Linked DNA regions of Homo sapiens: region 1 is linked to region 2. Evidence: fine-mapped expression QTL. A gene starts in region 2. The other region holds a variant in brackets. All regions are shown on one strand. Distances are from middle to middle. Region 1 has its middle 7.2 kb from the start of TMEM35A. Region 2 holds the start of CSTF2 (cleavage stimulation factor subunit 2).

Region 1 (2,916 bases), 250 kb before region 2:
CACACCTGTAATCCCAGCACTTTGGGTGGCCGAGACAGGTGGATCACCTGAGGTCGGGAGTTCGAGACCACGCTGGCCAACATGGCGAAACCCTGTCTCTACTAAAAATACAAAAAATTAGCCGGGCGTGGTGGTGCACACCTGTAATCCCAGCTACTCAGGAGGATGAAGCAGGAGAATTGCTTGAACTCGGGAGGTAGAGGTTGCAGTGAGCCGAGATCGTGCCACCACACTCCAGCCTGGGCGACAGAGGGAGACTCCGTCTCAAAAAAAAAAAAAAAAGAAAACCTTTGCTCTGATGGAGGAGACTTAGCTTTCCAAACAAGACCCAATAAAGATGGCATTAGGCTAACTAAATTTGTCTCTTCTCTGTCTTCCCTTTTTTCCCTGCAATTTACTCAAAGGAAGAAATAAAACCCTTTCATTATCTTTTAACATTACATAAAAATCATCTTCAAAGGAGAAAACCAAATTTCATGTTTGCATTAGTGCATCTTTAATGTTAAGGCTAGTTTTTTAAATAACATTTTATATCTCTATCCAGTTTTAATTAGTTGACCATAAGGTAAGGTTTTCATGAACTTTTTAGAACGCTCTACAATTTTCCATCAAACAGATCCATTTTTTAAGAAAATCCTCTTCTAAGAAAACCCTGTTTTCTTAGAAAATTGATGGGCCTGGATTCTGGCCCCAGAACAGTATCATTTCAACGTTTTAACCTACGGAAAAAAGCTAAATAATTTCTTTTAAATCCTAGCCAACTTGTTTATATCCACAGAATTTTTTTTATAAGACTGACCCTTTACAAACCCTTTTCATTTTGCTTAAACCTTCGGTTTTGCTCTGTTACTCTTTTAGGTTAAAACAATCCTTAAGGCCAGGAGTGGTGGCTCACGCCTGTAATCCCAGCACTTTGGGAGGCCGAGGTGGGTGGATCACAAGGTCAAGAGATCTAGACCATCCTGGCCAACATGGTGAAACCCCGTCTCCACTAAAAATATAAAAATTAGCTGGGCATGGCGGCACATGCCTGTCGTCCCAGCTACTCAGGAGGCTGCAGCAGGAGAATCGCTTGAACCCGGGAGGCAGAAGTTGCAGTGAGCCGAGATCACGCCACTGCACTCCAACCTGGCGACACAGAGGGAGACTCTGTCTCAAAAAAAAAAAAAAAAAAAAAAAGACAATCTTTAAAATCCTCTGAACTAGACAAAATTACATTCCCTTTAACAAAAGCCATATTCCCAATGCTTTTACATGTATGTAAAACTGTTTCTCCAGTGTTCTTAATTACATGTTACAAAGTTAACTCTTAGCAACTTTTATTTTTAGTGAAAAACCTGATAAGTAAGTAATTTTAATTAGGTACTGGGGTGGAGCCTAGGACAGACGGAAATGAAGATAAGGTCTGACTCTTTTTAGCATAGCTAGCTGGCATAGCTCTCCGTATGTCCCCAGGCCTTATCTATAATCC[A/G]ATGCTCCAAAGTAGGTAAATCGAACAATTTTCAAAAGTCAAAGAAAGTTTGACCTTAAAGCATTTAGCAAATCTGATATCTGACCTTAATTTAGAACAAATGTCTGCATTTTCAAGACATTTTATTTTACCAATAATCTTTAAAACTGTTTTTATTTCCAAAAGATTACTAAAGTCTTGAGAACAAAAAAGCATTAGTTTCTATTTTTCTGACAAAATATTTAAGTGCTTATTTTTCTAAGCCAATTAATCAAAGGGGTTTTTGTTTGTTTGTTTGTTTGTTTTTGTTGTTGTTTTTTGTTGGTTTGTTTGTTTTTTGAGACAGAGTTTCACTCTTGTCGCCCAGGCTAGAGTGCAGTGGCACGATCTTGGCTCACGGCAACCTCCACCTCCCTGGTTCAAGCGATTCTCCTGCCTCAGCGTCCTGAGTAGCTGGGATTACAAGCATGCGCCACCATGCCCGGCTAATTTTTGTATTTTTAGTAGAGATGGTTTCACCACGTTGGCCAGGCTGGTCTCAAACTCCTGACCTCAGGTGATTCCCCCCAACCTCGGCCTCCCAAAGTGCAGGGATTACAGGCATGAGCCACCATGCCTGGCAATCAGAGCTCTTTTATATATAAACATCACACACACACACACACACACACACACACACACACACACACACACACACGCAATATATATATATAAATACAGACAGACAGAAGATTCGGCACTTGTAGGAGCCACCGCACCCAGTCTCTATGCATTTTTTAAAGAGTTATTCCTGGCTGGGTGTGGTGGCTCACGACTGTAATTCCAACACTTTAGGAGGCCAAGGCAGGAGGACCACTTGAGCCCAGGAGTTCCAGATCAGCCTGGCAACATAGTGAGACCCCATCTCTACAATGAAATTAAAAAAAAAGTTAGCTGTGTGTGTGGGCATGAGCTCGTAGTCCCAGCTACTTGGGAGGCGGAGGAGGGAGGATATCTTGAGCCCGAGTTCAAAAGAGTTATTCTTAGGAGTTTTATGCTATTTTTGTCATCATTAATGCATTTTTATTCCATTATATCTTCTAGCTGGTTGTTGCTGGCTTACAGGAAAACTATTGATTGTTATTTGGCCGCTTTTCTGAACTCTCTTCTTAAATATCTGAGTGTTTCAATTGATGCCCTTGGGTGTTCTCTTGATAGACAAACAAATTAACTGGAAATAATGGTAATTTATGTATCTCTTTCAATAGTTATTCCTAATTTCTTTTTCAAATCTTACAGTATTAGCTACAAGTCAGCTTTTAACATTTACTTAGCCTGGGCCAAGAGTACGATTGGAGGCCTACTTACAACACATCAAGGAACCATGAATTGGAACACAAAGAGAAGCAAGAAAACCTATGCTTGTTACTACTGGGAAACAATCATTGTTATGGAAGAATCTATCGCTCTTGAGACAGAAAGGATTT
Region 2 (2,916 bases):
ACCACGGCGGCTAATTTTTGTATTTTTAGTAGAGACAAGGTTTCACCACATTGGTCAGGCTGGTCTCGAACTCCTGACCCCAGGTGATCCGCCTGCCTCGGCCTCCCAAAGTGCTGGGATTACAGGCTTGAGTCACTATGCCCTGCCTAAAAAACATTTTTAACGAAAAAAACATATTTTAGGTAAGAATAAATGTCAATTGTATAGTGTATCAATTATATCTCAATAAAGCTGTTACAAGAACAAAATGTATGTGAAAAGTCACCAGTAAAGAAAACCTGCCATTATTACTAAGAGCCAAATCTGTGGTGATTTTTAAGAAGCTCCCACCATGAAGGAAAAGGGGATCTCACCTGAAACTAACAACAGGTCCAACCTCAGAAAAGATGTCCTTCAACTGCTCTTCAGTAGCTTCATAAGGAATGTTCCCCACTAAGGAAGAAAATAGGTAACATTAAAATTCTGAGTTTATAACATAGATCTTTAGTGAGAAAGTAAACTTATATCATCAAATATAAGACTCAAAATAGTGTTCTCCAATCCCAATTCCATTGTATTTCTTCAGACCTCTTAACAAAGGAAATATACCACTGAAACTAAATACAAAATGTGTAGGTACTCTCAAATGTTAGTTCTCAGACTGATCTGACACGTGTTAGATTTTCCTTAACTTTGGTGCAAATAAATACTTTGGCACTGGTATTTACCTAAAGATCTGCAAGTCTCATCAGTGACTACAAAAAATATCAATGTTATTTAATATAATTTTTAAAACAGGTTCCTATGTATTTCCACACATACAACATTTAAGGGAGAATGACGATGAATGTAGTGAAAGATGTTTAAAAAGTATTCTGAACTACTTTGTCATGTCCCTTTCAAATGGTACTCTAAAATAATCACACGTATTTTTAAAAACAACTTATTTCAGCCAAAAAGATAATTCAGAATCGTTTCGATCCTTTTTAAAATTCCTCTGAGGAGATCTTAATAGTTCATTCATTCATTCACTTACAAGCCATCTCAGGACACCAGGTGGCCGCTACCACTATTGATGCACTAAAATGTTACAGATAAAAAGCAAAGGATGAAAGTCCTTAGGAGAGGACAGTAAGTGGACACTAGGATCTATACCCTCAGCATATAGTCTGTATTCTGGGGCAGAGGATGAGAAGTAGTACGGGACAGTGAGGAGCTGTTACCGTGAGCCTTCTCCTCTAGAGAATAATTGAAGCTCATGAAAGGAGAAACGCACAGAAGCTGAACGCTAGTCTAACTTCCCCACTGATATTGCGGAAAGCCTACGAGACCTCGGCAGAATGGGAATATCTCTTTGCTCATGAGTCCACCAGGTTGGACGCCCTACAGGATAAGCAGGGAGAACTGCACGTCCGAACCGTCAGCGGCTCCGGTAGCGATTCATGAGATAGAAGGTGCAGAGGGGAGTCCCTCCCCGAAGCTTGACTACAACGAATTCCTCTCACCGAACACAGAACGTAGAGAACGATCCACCGCTGGGTCTCTCACAGTCAAACCCGCCATAGCTCTGTTGAGTCGGCTTCCGGTGCGCCAAAGCACACTTCCGTACGGAGCACAAGCCCAGCGCTGAGCACGCTTCCGTACGGCGCGTGAGCCGGAAGGGCCTGGGCGGAACGGACGCAGAGCCCCTCCCCTGGAGACATTCTGTTAGCCGCAGGCGCGAGTTGCGTCCACCGGAGGGCTATATTCTCACTCCTGAGATTAACTCTGTTCCGAGCCAGATGCAGGCGAGTCCAGGCTAATTTGAAGGGTTTCAGCCTGCAGACTTCCTTCTTATTAATTTTCTCTTAGGTTGATGCAAGTACTCCTCAACCACAATAAAGGCGCAGCGGCTTTACCATGGTAACAGGGAAGTCCTTTGCTGACAACTGTGGGGCTTGCATTTTAGTTCCGCCCTATCAAGGGAGGGAAATGCTTGGGCCCGTCCCAGCAGCGTGCATATTATTTGCTAAACCTGTTCGTGTGTGGAGTGAGATGAGGAAAGGGCATGCCAGCCGAGAGAAGCATAGTTAAAGAAATGGGAGAGGTAAAGGGAGAACAGACCTCTGTCCTCGTGTAGTCCGTGGGTTCCATGTGCTTCGTGGTGGGGCGGTGCGGCAGGGGATTCTGGCAGGCAGAGTATCGGAAACAGAAAACGTCATTCATCGGTTTTTCCACACTTTGGTGCCCACGCGCCTGGGATATGGCATGCAGGGCAGGTCGTTGTATCATCCCGGAAAGGCAGACCCTGCCGGGGTTGGAGGAAATCCAGGGGGCACCTCAGGAGGACAGGGTTAGGGGATAAGCAAAGGAAGGAGCCAAGAGCGCTACCTTTGAGGGACTTGTCCGAAAAAGGAAGACGGTAAAATAGCCACGGAATTGGAGGCATGGACGTTTTTATTAATTCCACATGTATTAAAAGTATATGGGCCGGGCGCGGTGGCTCATGCCTGTAATGCCAACACTTTGGGAGGCCGAGGCGGGCGCATCACCTGAGGTCGGGAGTTGGAGACCAGCCTGGCCAACATGGAGAACCCCTTTTCTACTAAAAATACAAAATTAGCCGGGCGTGGTGGCGCATGCCTGTAATCCCAGCTGCTCAGGAGGCTGAGGCCAGAGAATCGCTTGAACCCGGGAGATGGATGTTGCGGTGATCCGAGATCTGCCATTGCGCTCCAGCCTGGGCAACAAGAGCGAAACTCCATCTCCAAAATAAAAGTATATGAAATATGATAAATATTTAGAAAAAATTAATAAGTGCTAGTTTACACCATGAAGCATATCACTTTAAGAAGTAATTCTGGTAAAGATGGAAAGTTTGAGAAGAGTATACCCATTTCCATGACTCTAGAGTCCCATTTGCAATCACTGTGTGACCAAGAGGACACCTTGTGTAAT

Evidence for each region. PIP is the estimated chance that this variant, and not a neighbour inherited with it, causes the effect.
Region 1: its variant is fine-mapped to the expression of CSTF2 in esophagus mucosa (GTEx, PIP 0.97).

The regions. Positions count from the first base shown.
Region 1 is chrX:101,070,247-101,073,162 of GRCh38, reverse strand. No RefSeq gene overlaps it. Among named protein-coding and RNA genes, the nearest start is that of TMEM35A, 7.2 kb to the left of the region's middle. The variant A/G (reference allele first, on the strand shown) is at 1,472.
Region 2 is chrX:100,819,043-100,821,958 of GRCh38, reverse strand. It overlaps CSTF2 (cleavage stimulation factor subunit 2), which reads right to left and starts at 1,568. Exons shown (of 14, transcript NM_001325.3): 1 at 1,485-1,568; 2 at 354-432. The coding sequence starts at 1,542. RefSeq lists enhancers at 1,337-1,496, 1,777-1,826, 1,837-1,896.